2 separate regions of the Homo sapiens genome follow, and region 1 is linked to region 2. A link means that fine-mapping ties the variant in region 2 to the expression of a gene that starts in the linked region. Tissue or cell type: whole blood. Region 2 holds a variant in brackets; the other region holds the start of a gene. All regions are shown on one strand. Distances are from middle to middle.

Region 1 (5,491 bases), 45 kb before region 2:
GGCCCCAGCGACGAGGGGCTGGCCCAGCTTGACTTGTGCAGGGTGAGCAGGTGGGCACTGACTGGGGCCCTCCCAACAGGACAGAGGCATTAGCTGGGACCGCTGCTCCTGTAGCCTCTGGGCTGTGCCTGGGCCTATGTGGCAGAAAGGTGGAGAGTCAAAGCCCAGAGGCTCAGGCCCTGCCTCAAAGTGAGCATTCAAAAAACTATGACATGGATGACAAAGACATTAGGGATAATGATAATGTGTAAAGCACTCTAAACCCAATGTCTGGGTCAGCAGTTCTTTCATCCCACTTTATAGATGTAAACACTGAGACTTGGAGCAGTTATGTCATTCAGTTGAAGTTGAAAAAGGTGGCAAGCAAGAGAGGCCACATTAGCTTCAACCTGTGTTGAAGACCTAGGTGCCCTGATGCCCTGCAGAAAACTGGGGCTCAGGGATGGGAAGAGCCTGGCTGGTAATCAGCAACGGCAAGAGTCTAACCTGGACCTACATGCGGGCCCGTTGTGCTCCACACTTTTGCTATCTTATCTGTGTTTCCCCTGGAACCCAACAGAACCTTTTACAAGGACTCCAGATGCCCAGGGACTCATGGCCAGCGGGCCGCAGACCCAGCCAGACATGGTTGTCTCTCCCACCATCCAGCAGTGGGATCATGTGGGGCTGGTACCAGTGATTTCCCTCTGAGCAGCCAAACCTATGCAATCTATAGGGCCAAGAGGTGGTGGTGGTGGACAAGTGGGATCTGGGGCTTGGGGGTGATGGACTGTGCCCTGGGGTTCATGGCAGCACCTGGAGAATGGGCTTCCCCAAAGCACCAGGCCATGCACCTCAAAGCTGGACATGAGTTGACCAAGGTTTCCCTTTGCCCACAAAGAGGGATGCAGTAACATGTCAGATGGTGGTTTGCATCCTGTTCTGTCATACCTTGTGGCCTTGGGCCATCCCCACCCCCAGCCATACTTTTCCCAGCTAGACAGAGCCAGAGCAGACACTCTGATCTTCTTTGTCACCACTGACACTCCAGTCTGGATGACATGCGATGCCAGGAAGCAGGTGACGGCAGATGAAATGGGTCTAGGATGGGCACCTAAGCCCTGGGATCTTGGGGCTGCAACAGGCTCACTGGCATCCAACCTCTAATTGCACACAAACTCAGATAGGAAGCTCACTACCTTCTGTGGCCACTCTTTTGATTTCAACAGCTGCCACTCTTGAAAAGTTCTTGACACCCAGCTGAAAGCATTTTCTCTCTGTGGCTTTCTCCGGGGGCCTCACAGCTGTCCGCATGGAGCTAGGTGAGAGGATGAGAGAGGGAGAACACTGGGCTACTGGTCCCTGTGGTCTCCCTTGCTGTGTTTTTCTTATCTTTTTCTTTTTTCCTTTTTTTTGAGATGGAGTCTCGCTCTGTCTCCTAGGCTGCCGTGCGGTGGTGCAATTTCAGCTCACTGCAACCTCCGCCTCCCAGGTTCAAGCGATCTCCTGCCTCAGCCTCCCAAGTAGCTGGGACTATGGGCGTCTACCACCATGCCCCGCTACTTTTTTTTGTATTCTTTTAGTAGAGATGGGGTTTTGCTATGTTGGCCAGGCTGGTCTCGAACTCCTGACCTCTGGTGATTTGCCTGCCTTGGCCTCCCAAAGTGCTGGGATTACAGGCATGAGCCACTGCGCCCAGCCTCCCTTGTTGTGTTTCTGACCCCTGGCTGCAGCCTAATGGGCCGACTGCTGGACAGCGGTCCTGAGTCCTGTTTGAATTGGTGCTGCCCCGACATCCTCTGACCTCAGCTAATGATCCTGCCTGCCGAGGGCAGACAGGTCTCTGCAACCCTATGGGTGGTAGGGGTGGTGATGAGAGGAGAGGTAGTCTCACTTGCACAGATTTTGGTGTATGGTTCTGTCTTTTGCACTCTTTCAACAGAGGTCTGTCCAGTCCCTCTTGCAAGTGTGGGGAGGGGGTGGTGCAGGACTATGAGGTAACTGTGAGAAGAGGGGCTCCAGCAGAACCAGGGTCCAATGGCCTTGAAGAGATGGCTGGGGACAGCTGGACTCATTACGTCTACTCCTAAATGGAGGAAACGACCCCTCAGCTACACAGCACCTGAGCCAGAATGTCACCATGGTGCTGCTCCACAGGATGACAGCTACCTGGTTTGTGAGGGCCCCTATTCTAGGGACAGCTACTTCATTCTGCCCTCCCAGAGCAGCAAGCAACAACCCTATGCCAGGAGGCCAATTGGCACGTCAAGTGCCAGCTCCAATCGATTGATAGTAGCTGCCTGGCTCTGAAAGGCAGCTGGGATCGATTCACCATGCTGCCAGCACACAGATGGACCCAGCGGTGGTCCCAGCAGTGAGTTCTTGCCTTGGGCCATTTCATTTTCTTTGTCCTGGCCAAGGAATGATTGGATGAACACACTGGACTCCCAATATGGGTGGATAAGACAAGAGTGTCTGGTCACACCCCTCCACCACTCATAAGCATGGTTGTGGGCAGTTTGGTTCCCCAGGCGGCCTTGGAGAATGCAATGAGCCGAGGAACTGGTCATCTCCAGGTGCATCCAGGGCAGGAAAGGATGACAGCATGCGTGAGCCAGGGTCACTGGCTAAGAAGTCATCTCAGGACCTCCCCCTAGAAAAGCCCACTGGGCAGCATCCCTGCTGGTTCCCCCCTACACCACAAGGTTACGCAGAGCTGGCGGAGGGTCATGGTCCCACTCATGTCAGGTGCTCTTAATCTGGCAAGGAAATGTAACCTACGTGAATCTCAACAGGCAGTGAAGCACCGTTTCTTCCTGACTCCAGGTAGGGTGAAGAAAATGGGACAGTAGTACGGGGTGCGGGCATAAACGCACAACTCTGCCTCCCCAGACGCAGAGCTGTGGGGCTGTGAGAATGCCAGGAGGAGGTAAGAAAGGGCGGCCCCATGGGGGGCCTGCAGGGTGGGACAAGCCCAAGAGGTCTCTACATCCAGGCCTGGTGGGGGAGGTGAGCCCCTGGTTTACCGAGGGGGTCCCTTCCTGCCCTCGGAAATACTGCAGCTCCTACCTCCATCGTCTCCCCGCTGCGGGGACCCAGGGGCGTGAGGATGAGAGAGCCCCCAGGCCCCAGGGTCAGACGACTGTGTTCAAGCAAGTGAGAACCTCTCTGAGGCTGTTTCCCAACTGTAAAATGGGGATAGCAGCAGAACTCTCTCTCGCGGCTTGCGTGAAGAATACAATTCGATGTCGACAGGAGGGAGCGGCGCGCAGCGCGCAGCGAGTAGCAGGCGCTGAAGAAGGATACCTGTGAACTGGGAGTGGTGGCGGAGGCTACGCGGCCAGAGTCCGGGGAAGGGGCGCCGGCTCTGCCAGTCCCTGCTCGGGGCTGGATGGTCGGGGGATGTTCTCGTAAGTCGGCTGGGAGGGAGCGGTCCCGCGTACCCTGCCACCGCCGCCGCAGAGGTTCGGGCAGGTGCGGGGCCGCGGCCCCTCCGCGAGGGGGCCGGTCATCCGCCGGGACTGACATCCCGGAGGCCCAATGGCAAGCCGTCATCTCCGCGCATCCGCCCAATCGGCGCCGGTTGCCGTGCCGCGCCGGGTCTCTCGACCAATGGGAAAATTTGCTGTCAGATGGGGCGGGGCGGAGATTCGCGTCGCCGGCCCGGTCCGCTTTGCGCACGGGCCGCGTGAGGGCGGGAGGGCTGGCCCGGGGTCTCGGGTTGCGCGCTGGGCCTGGAGGGAGGGGGCGGCCCCCGCACCGGTCCGAGTTGCGGCCGCGTGGACTGCGACCCGCGCCGCGCCGCACCGCGCCGCGCCCTGGGAACGCCGCTCCCCGCGCGCCAACGGACCCGGGGAAGCCCTTCTGGGGTCCGAGGCCGCGCTGCGGGGCCGCCCACGCTGCGCTCCAGGTAAGCCTGAGCCAGTGGGCGGGGTGTGGGACCCGGGGCTGGGGCCTCGGGTCGGAGCCGGGACTGGGGGCGGGGCTGCAGATATGGGACGCATTCCGGGCAGCGGTCCGGACAGGGTCCTATCCCTGGAGTCGAGATCCGGGCGAGGGTCTGGGCCGGACGTCGGAGCCAATCTCCGCCCCACCCGCGTCTTGTCCGCGCGCTCTGCGGCGTCCGAGACCCCGGGCCGGCGGGGGCGGGTCTCTTTGTGCGTGGCCTTGGGGCCCTACCCTACCCGTCCGGGCGTCTTGCACTGAGCACTCCAGCCGAGCGCGGCCCGACCCCGCAGCCGTGCCCGCCCCGCGCGACGCTTGGCGCCTAGCTGCCAGGGCCCTGCAGCCGCCGAAACTTTCCAACAGCCCGAGGGGCGGCAGGCCGGGAACTTTCCTGGGGCAGCGCGCCGCCGGGAAGCTCAGGGGCACCGACGGCCCGGAGGTGTCCTCGCGCCGCGCTGCTCCTGCCGCCTCGGGGGTGAGAGAGGGCGCGCCACCCGGACCCCCGGCCTGGGTCCCCCTCCCCACGCCGCCCTGCGCCCCCTCGGTGCCGGTGCGGAGACATGTCATCTCCACTCTGAGGGAGACTGCTCGGTTTGCTGGGGAGTCGCCCTGGGCAGGTGGCCTGAGAGCTCCAGCCTATTTTAATTTTTAAATAATTAAATATTGGCTGCTTACAATATTTCACCGTTTCTTAGCTATGTGTAATGTAACATACTTAAAATGGAACTAAAGGACTTCAGCTCCCTTTCCCTACATCCAGGCATATTTAGAAATAAGGAAAAGAAAGGTGCCCCGTGGGTATTTTTTAGAGTAGGCTCTTAATGCTGCTGTCTAATAACCTCAGGTGAGTACCCAGGCTGCTGTGGGGGAAACCTCCCCTATGGTATGGGCCAGGGGGGTGCAGTGGGAGCCTCCACCTCTCCCGACCTTAGCTTCTCTGGGGTAGCTGCCTTTACTTCTTCCTACTTCTTAACTACTGCCTTATCTGCCTTTACTCTGGGATCTGGGCGGTGTTTAGAGGTCTGGTCCAAACAAGGCAGGTGTTACCTATCTTGTACTCACTCTATTGGAGCTGGGATGGTGCTGAATGCAGGGGGGCAGTCAGCGCTCTCTTGCCCGGTGTGCCATGCCAGTGGCCGGTCAGCTCCTAAGCAGGTGATCCAGGCCTTAGATCAGGCGACAGTGTGAGCCGCAGCGTGTCTGGGAAGGCATTTCCCCCAGTCTTGCCCCATCCTATCCGCAATGTCTGCTCCCAGCTGTCCCCTGTCCCCACCCTACCCCCATTCTGGGGTCCACCAGCGCCCAGCAGAGGACTGGGCACAGAACATTCGCTAAGGGACTCAAGTCCCAGCTGAGAGGGTAGTTGAGCACAGCCAAGCCAGCCCCTGCCCAGCTCTTGGCTGAGCTGCCCTGTCAGGCTTTTCAGCATAAACACAAGGACCTTCTGACCAAGGTTCCTCCTGGGAGAACAAGTTCTGACCCTCAATCCTGCTAAATTTGAGTCTCCCCACCCACCACATCTGGGCTGCTTGGCTCCCATGTTTGCTCTGGCACTCCCTCCAGAGGT
Region 2 (5,985 bases):
CTACATACCTGGCAGTTGCAAGGGAGCCACCGGGAGGGTCTGTGGTACAGCTCCCAGCACCTGGTGGGAGATGAGTCCTAGGGGCAGGGCTGGGACATCCCCAGGCCCCACTGCCACCAACTCCTACCCCTAGGCTAAACTGTCTGCCCAAACTCTGACAACGGTGCTCCACTCCCACAGGTGCCCAGGCCTGGACATGGGGGTGCCTTTTGGGGCCTGGGTAGGAGAGAACTGTGCCCAACTCTCCTGATACACCCATTCCCCATATGGGGTCTGCCTCACCTCCCACCACCTTTCCCTTCCAGGAAAGAAGGATGGTGAGATGGACCGGAACTTTGACACGCTAGACCTGCCCAAGCGAACTGAGGCCGCCAAAGGTGAGTGGGCTGAGATGAAGCCAGCTCCACTGGGGGATGTCTGGGCTCAGGATTGCCCTGGTAGTGAAGCTTTGAGCCATCAAGCAGGCCTGGAGGGCCTCAGGGAACAGATGGGGAAACAGGCCCCTAGGTGCAGGATTTCCTGGAGGGTGATTCAGCACCAGGACACCTGCTGAGGGTTTAGAATGGGAGGAAGTGCCATGGGTCATGTCAGGCAAGGTTGGGGGAGACAGGCACAGAGAGGCCGAGGGCTTGCTCGGCCTCACGGTGCGTAAGAGGTGGGAAGGTTTGGAGGGACGCCTCCAGTGGAGGCAGGGCCTCCTGTGTTAGCCACAAAGCTGAGTTATCTGAGGGGGCTGGGAGCCAGGCGGGCATGCTCACATCCAGGTTCAGAGGCTGGGCCAGACGAACACCTGCAGGGACAGGGCAGTGCCTATTGGGCTGTATGCTGGGATCTGGCTTGAGAGAGAGGTCTGTCCTGGTGGGGCCTAGCCAGTTGGAAGAGCCTGCATGTCACCAGGGTGGAGGGCTCCAGCCGCAGGAGGGCTGTGGGGGAGTATTACAGGCAGAGCAGGGCTGATGCAGATACCCCAGCGGGGAGTGTGCTTGGAGTGTGTTGGAGCAGAAAGCCCAGCAGGGCAGGAGTAGAGGGAGCATGGGGCATGAGGACTGGCGAGGGTGTGATGAAATGTCACTGGGTGGGTACAGGGGAGATCGAGGTAGTACCCAAGCCAGGCTGAAGCCCCAGTTTGGAGACAGGCAAGCTTGGAAGGCTGTTTTGACCCCTCATTTCTGGAGCACTGGGCAGAGCAGCAGGACGGCGCCTCAGTTGCCCGGGAACTTGGAGTGGTTGCCAGGAAGAGTGCCTCCTGTTGCTAGGGCAGCTGCCCTGGTTGCACTGCATCAGTTGACTTACAGAGGGTGGGCTCTATTGTCAGTGGGGGAGGGTGGGCCCTGTTGCTAGGGGGCGTAGCTCTCTGCACAGCTTCAGTTACTGGTGAAAGCAGGTCCTCTTGCTAGGGGTGTGGCCTTGGTTATACAACTCTCAGTTACTGGCCAATGCTGGTCTTGTTGCCAGGGAGGGTGGGCCCTATTACCAGGGGCGTGGCCAGGATGCATAGCTTCAGGGACCTACCGGGAAATGCGGGTCTTGTTGCTAGGAGAGCGTTCCTGGTTGACACCTCCCTCCCCACCCCAGGCCTCCTGGATGCTCCTGCTGCCAGGCAGGTCCAACTGATTTGAGCCTCAGTTTGTTCCTCTGTGAAATGGGAACGCTTTTCCCCTTGGGTGACTATATGTTGATAGTAAATATTACGTGACTCATCCACACCCATCCCTGGCCCCAGCTCACCCACGCCCTGGGAGCTCTGAAGCGGGAAGCGGGAGGGGTATGATGGATGAGAGCAGATTCTGGGTGACCGTGGGTGGCGGTTGCCCTGCACCTAGGCTTTGAGCTGCTGTACCAGCCCGAGGTGGTACGTCTCTACCTCTCCCTCCTCACGGAGAGCCGGAACTTCAACACCCTGGAGGCTGCCGCCGGCGCTCTGCAGAACCTCAGTGCCGGCAACTGGATGGTGAGGGACCAGGTCGGGCAGGGTGGGCAAGTCCTGAGAGAGGGAATCCCAGGCACCTCACTGGTGCAGCTCCTGCCTCGGCTGGCGGGGAAAGGAGGGGCCACACCACCACCCCAGGATCCAAGAGGTGTATGGGCTGCGGGCAATGCGTGCACCCTGGACGGTGGGAAAACCTCGGTGGAGGTGCCGTTGAGCTTTTGGGGTAGGGCTTTGTCGGGCACGGGAGCAGGAAGGTCCAGCTGGAGAGAGCGGTCAGCGTCTGGAGGTGGGAGAGTGCCTGGCATGTATGTCTGAGCAACCCTCTCCCCGCCTCCGCAGTGGGCCACGTACATCCGCGCCACAGTGCGCAAAGAGCGCGGGCTGCCGGTGCTTGTGGAACTGCTGCAGTCTGAGACCGACAAGGTGGTGCGCGCCGTCGCCATCGCTCTGCGCAACCTCTCGCTGGACCGGCGCAACAAAGACCTCATCGGTGAGGACGCCTGCAAAGCCCACGCCTGGGCACCGAACTGTGCCTGCAGCTTTGGGGTCCCATCGGAGGGGCTTGGAGGATGAGTGGTTTGGGAGTCCAGGCCCCGGCCCTCTCGCTTGGGCGCTGTCCCAACTGGAGGTAGCTCCAGTCCCCCCGGCCCTGTCTCTGAAGCTCAGCGCCCTGCTCACAGGGGCTCCTGTGACCGCCTGCACACAGGCGGTCTCCAGGGGCTCTCCTGGCAGTGCCCCTCGCCCTCGCGGGATCCCTGCTCCTTCCTGGAGAGGTGGGGCAGAGGTGTGTTCTGACACCTAGTCCTGCCCCTCAGGGAGCTACGCCATGGCTGAGCTTGTGCGGAATGTGCGCAATGCACAGGCTCCGCCGCGACCGGGGGCCTGCCTGGAGGAAGACACCGTGGTGGCGGTGCTCAACACCATCCACGAAATCGTGTCCGACAGCCTGGATAACGCGCGCTCGCTCCTGCAGGCACGCGGGGTGCCAGCGTTGGTGGCTCTCGTGGCCTCCAGGTGTGGAGGGGCGGGGTCGGTGGCTTGGGGAGCCGCGGAGGTGGGGGAGGGGCCACCACTGACCCCGCCCCCGGCCCCACAGCCAATCGGTACGCGAAGCGAAGGCGGCGTCACACGTGCTGCAGACAGTGTGGAGCTACAAGGAGCTGCGTGGTACCTTGCAGAAAGATGGTTGGACCAAGGCGCGCTTCCAGGTGCGGCTTCCCTGGCCTTCCTTCCATTCCCTGCTCACTTTGCCTTATTCCCACTCCATGTGCTTCACCCACCCTGTGTCTGTGTTTTATGTCTCAGTCAGCTGCTGCTACTGCCAAGGGGCCTAAGGGAGCACTGAGTCCTGGGGGCTTCGATGACAGCACGCTGCCACTGGTGGACAAGAGCCTTGGTGAGTGGTGGAGCTTAGGGAGCCTAGAGGGTGGCGACCCCAGCTGCCCCAGTTGCCTGACCCTTGGGTGAAGGTGAAGGAGGAGTCAGGCCTCCCACTGAGACGGCTTCCATAGGCCACTTTCCCTGCCCTCTGCCTCTTGGCTACTCCCTTCCCACAGCATCCGCGCTGTTGTCAAGCTGGGGTGAGGCTGCCAGCTGGCAGAGGTTGGGCACCTTAGTGACAGAGAGCCTCTAGGGCTACCTGGGCCAGCCCTGTGTGGGCTTCTCTGCCCCGATCCCCCCTGGCTGCCACATGCAGCCCGTCTCCTCCTCCTGCCTTGCAGAGGGCGAGAAAACTGGCAGCCGGGATGTGATCCCCATGGATGCGCTGGGCCCAGGTGAGTGCAGATGCAGTGTGGTTGGTTTTCTGTGCCGGGAGGGGACCAAGGCCTGAAGTGGGCCTGCTGGTTTTATGGGGTGTAGATGGTGCTGGGTGGAGGAGAGATATTTGGTTTAGGGGTGCTTAGAGGGTGAGGTACAGGGCAGCTAGAGAGGGATTAGTGCTCAGCCAGGGGCTCTGACCCACAAGTGGAGGGGAGTCTGGAGAGTTGGCAGGGTGTTGGTGAGAGCTGGCACCAGCCTGGATCTCCAGGACAGGGTGGGTGGGGGCTGTCTCCCAAAGCCCCTGTCCCACGAGTCCCCTGTGTCTGGGCTGAGAGGGAGATCTGCTCCTACAGGGCCTCCCTCAGAGCGCCCCTCATGCCCCACCTTACCCCATCTACAGACGGATACTCCACGGTGGACCGGAGGGAGCGGAGGCCACGGGGCGCCAGCTCTGCAGGAGAGGCCTCTGAGAAGGAACCCTTGAAAGTAAGTGGTCATGTGGCTGTGGGCAGGTCCCCGGTGAGGCCCCGTGTCTAGGGGTTGCTGGAGAGCAGCCTAGGCCATGCTGGGTCTGGTCTGGGCCCTGGGGTACAGCTGGGTTGTGGGGCCAAGCCCAGGAAGCAGCCCCTTCACGCCAGTCAGTCTGTGGGTACTGACAAGTTTGCAG[C/T]TCCCACCCACTGGGGACAACACTGCCCGGCCACACCCTGCATGGGCCAGAGCCTGTGAGCTAGTGTGTGTGCACCCTTCTGTGCATGTGCGTGTGAGAGCCCACCAGGGTCCACCAGCGATGGCAGGACCTGCTGCCTGCTGTGTGCCAATCCCCTGGCTTCCTGTGCAGGCCTGTGTGTGTGCACGTGCCCGCCCTGGGCCCGTGTGAGCCACACGTTTCCGGCTCCCTGCGCCCTTGGTGCTACCTGTGCTGTCCTGGCAGGCCAACCCTTACATCGCCAGCCTCGGCCCTGCCCCTGCCCTGTCCCCCCAGGAGCTCTAACTAACCTGCTCTATTGTGCCTCTAATGCCCACCCGTGCGCTGCAGCTCGACCCCAGCAGGAAGGCCCCTCCCCCCGGGCCCAGCAGGCCCGCGGTCAGGCTGGTGGACGCCGTAGGGGACGCTAAGCCTCAGCCCGTTGATTCCTGGGTCTAGCTTGCATGCCTGGTACGTTCTCTCATCTGGTTGTTCGTCCACCTGTTCCTGCCCTCTGGGCCAGGGCTTCTTGTTAGTCTCCGCTGCCTGCACGCTCTGCTCTTCCCGCACGTTCCCCGCAGGACTTTGGCCTCCAGTCCAGCAGCCCAGTGGCCCATTCCCGGAAAGACCAGGCAGAGGTCAGAGAGGGAGGGTGCTCCCTGGGCCCACAGCCCTGTCCCAGGCACTGTGGGATCAGGGGCCTGAGGAAATGGGACCAGAGTAGGGATGGGCACCATACCCTCCAACGCCCTTCGGGGACCAGCAAGTCAGGATCAGCCCTGGTGCCAAGACCCTTGGGGTCAGCCCACACCACCCAGGGCAGATGCTTCTATCCACATCTCCATCCATGTAGCCTGTGGAGTTGGCTGCCCTGCCCTGAGGTTACACGTGGTCCTGTGCCACTCAGTGGCTGCAGCGTCCACCATCCCCTTTCCCTCTGCAGGGCCCAGGCCCAGCCTCTTGTTCTTAGGGCTTGGATCGTGGAAGAAGGGCCACCCTGAGCAGATCGTGCCGTGGAGCTTGGAGCCCCCTGGCGGCAGGGGTTGGCAGCGCCTCGCCCCAGCCAAGCCTGACTTTGGGGACACCCTCCTGCCCCCCCACCCCACTCCCCCCATCCTACCTAACTCCCTAGGCCTGAGTTAGCTGTTTACTGACATGGTGCTGTGTGTGAGCGAGTGACAGAAGGCCCGAGGAGGCCGACTGGGCTGCTGGGGCAGGGCCCAGGGAGGTGGCAGGGAAGGGTGCCTGGCTGGGCTTTGGGGCTGGTGGGATAGGAGGGTGCCCCTGGGAACACAGTGCCCCAGTGGTGCGGGCCAGGTCTGGCGCCAGGGGCAGGCAGCTAGGCAGGGAGGGGGCTGGGAAAGAACTTGGACTTCTAAAGGCGGAGGGTCTCCCTGGGCACCCTGCAGGCAGGCAGACCACGGTGTGGGGGGTGCCCCACAAGGCCCAGCCCTGGGCAAGGAAGCTTTGGAAGCAGCAAGGTGGGGGTCAGGCTACAGGTGCCCCACCTCCCCAGAGCCCTGCAGTCACGTGAGGCCCCTGTGCAGTAGAGAGCCTTTCTCCAGCCCATGCTGGCTGGGGCCGGGGCTGCCGCATCTGCCTGGAGCCT

The links. PIP is the estimated chance that this variant, and not a neighbour inherited with it, causes the effect.
Region 1: ARVCF starts here. The variant in region 2 is fine-mapped to the expression of ARVCF in whole blood (TOPMed, PIP above 0.99). The same link has a PIP of 0.9 or more in NK cells and blood mononuclear cells.

The regions. Positions count from the first base shown.
Region 1 is chr22:20,014,987-20,020,477 of GRCh38, reverse strand. It overlaps ARVCF (ARVCF delta catenin family member), which reads left to right and starts at 3,655. Exons shown (of 20, transcript NM_001670.3): 1 at 3,655-3,889. It also overlaps a transcript of TANGO2 not described here. RefSeq lists a silencer at 3,364-3,763.
Region 2 is chr22:19,970,078-19,976,062 of GRCh38, reverse strand. It overlaps ARVCF (ARVCF delta catenin family member), which reads left to right. Exons shown (of 20, transcript NM_001670.3): 11 at 306-377; 12 at 1,824-1,951; 13 at 2,270-2,420; 14 at 2,746-2,944; 15 at 3,027-3,138; 16 at 3,236-3,326; 17 at 3,652-3,705; 18 at 4,092-4,177; 19 at 4,728-4,847; 20 at 5,320-5,985. The coding sequence ends at 4,835. Among named protein-coding and RNA genes, the nearest start is that of MIR4761, 9.3 kb to the right of the region's middle. The variant C/T (reference allele first, on the strand shown) is at 4,359.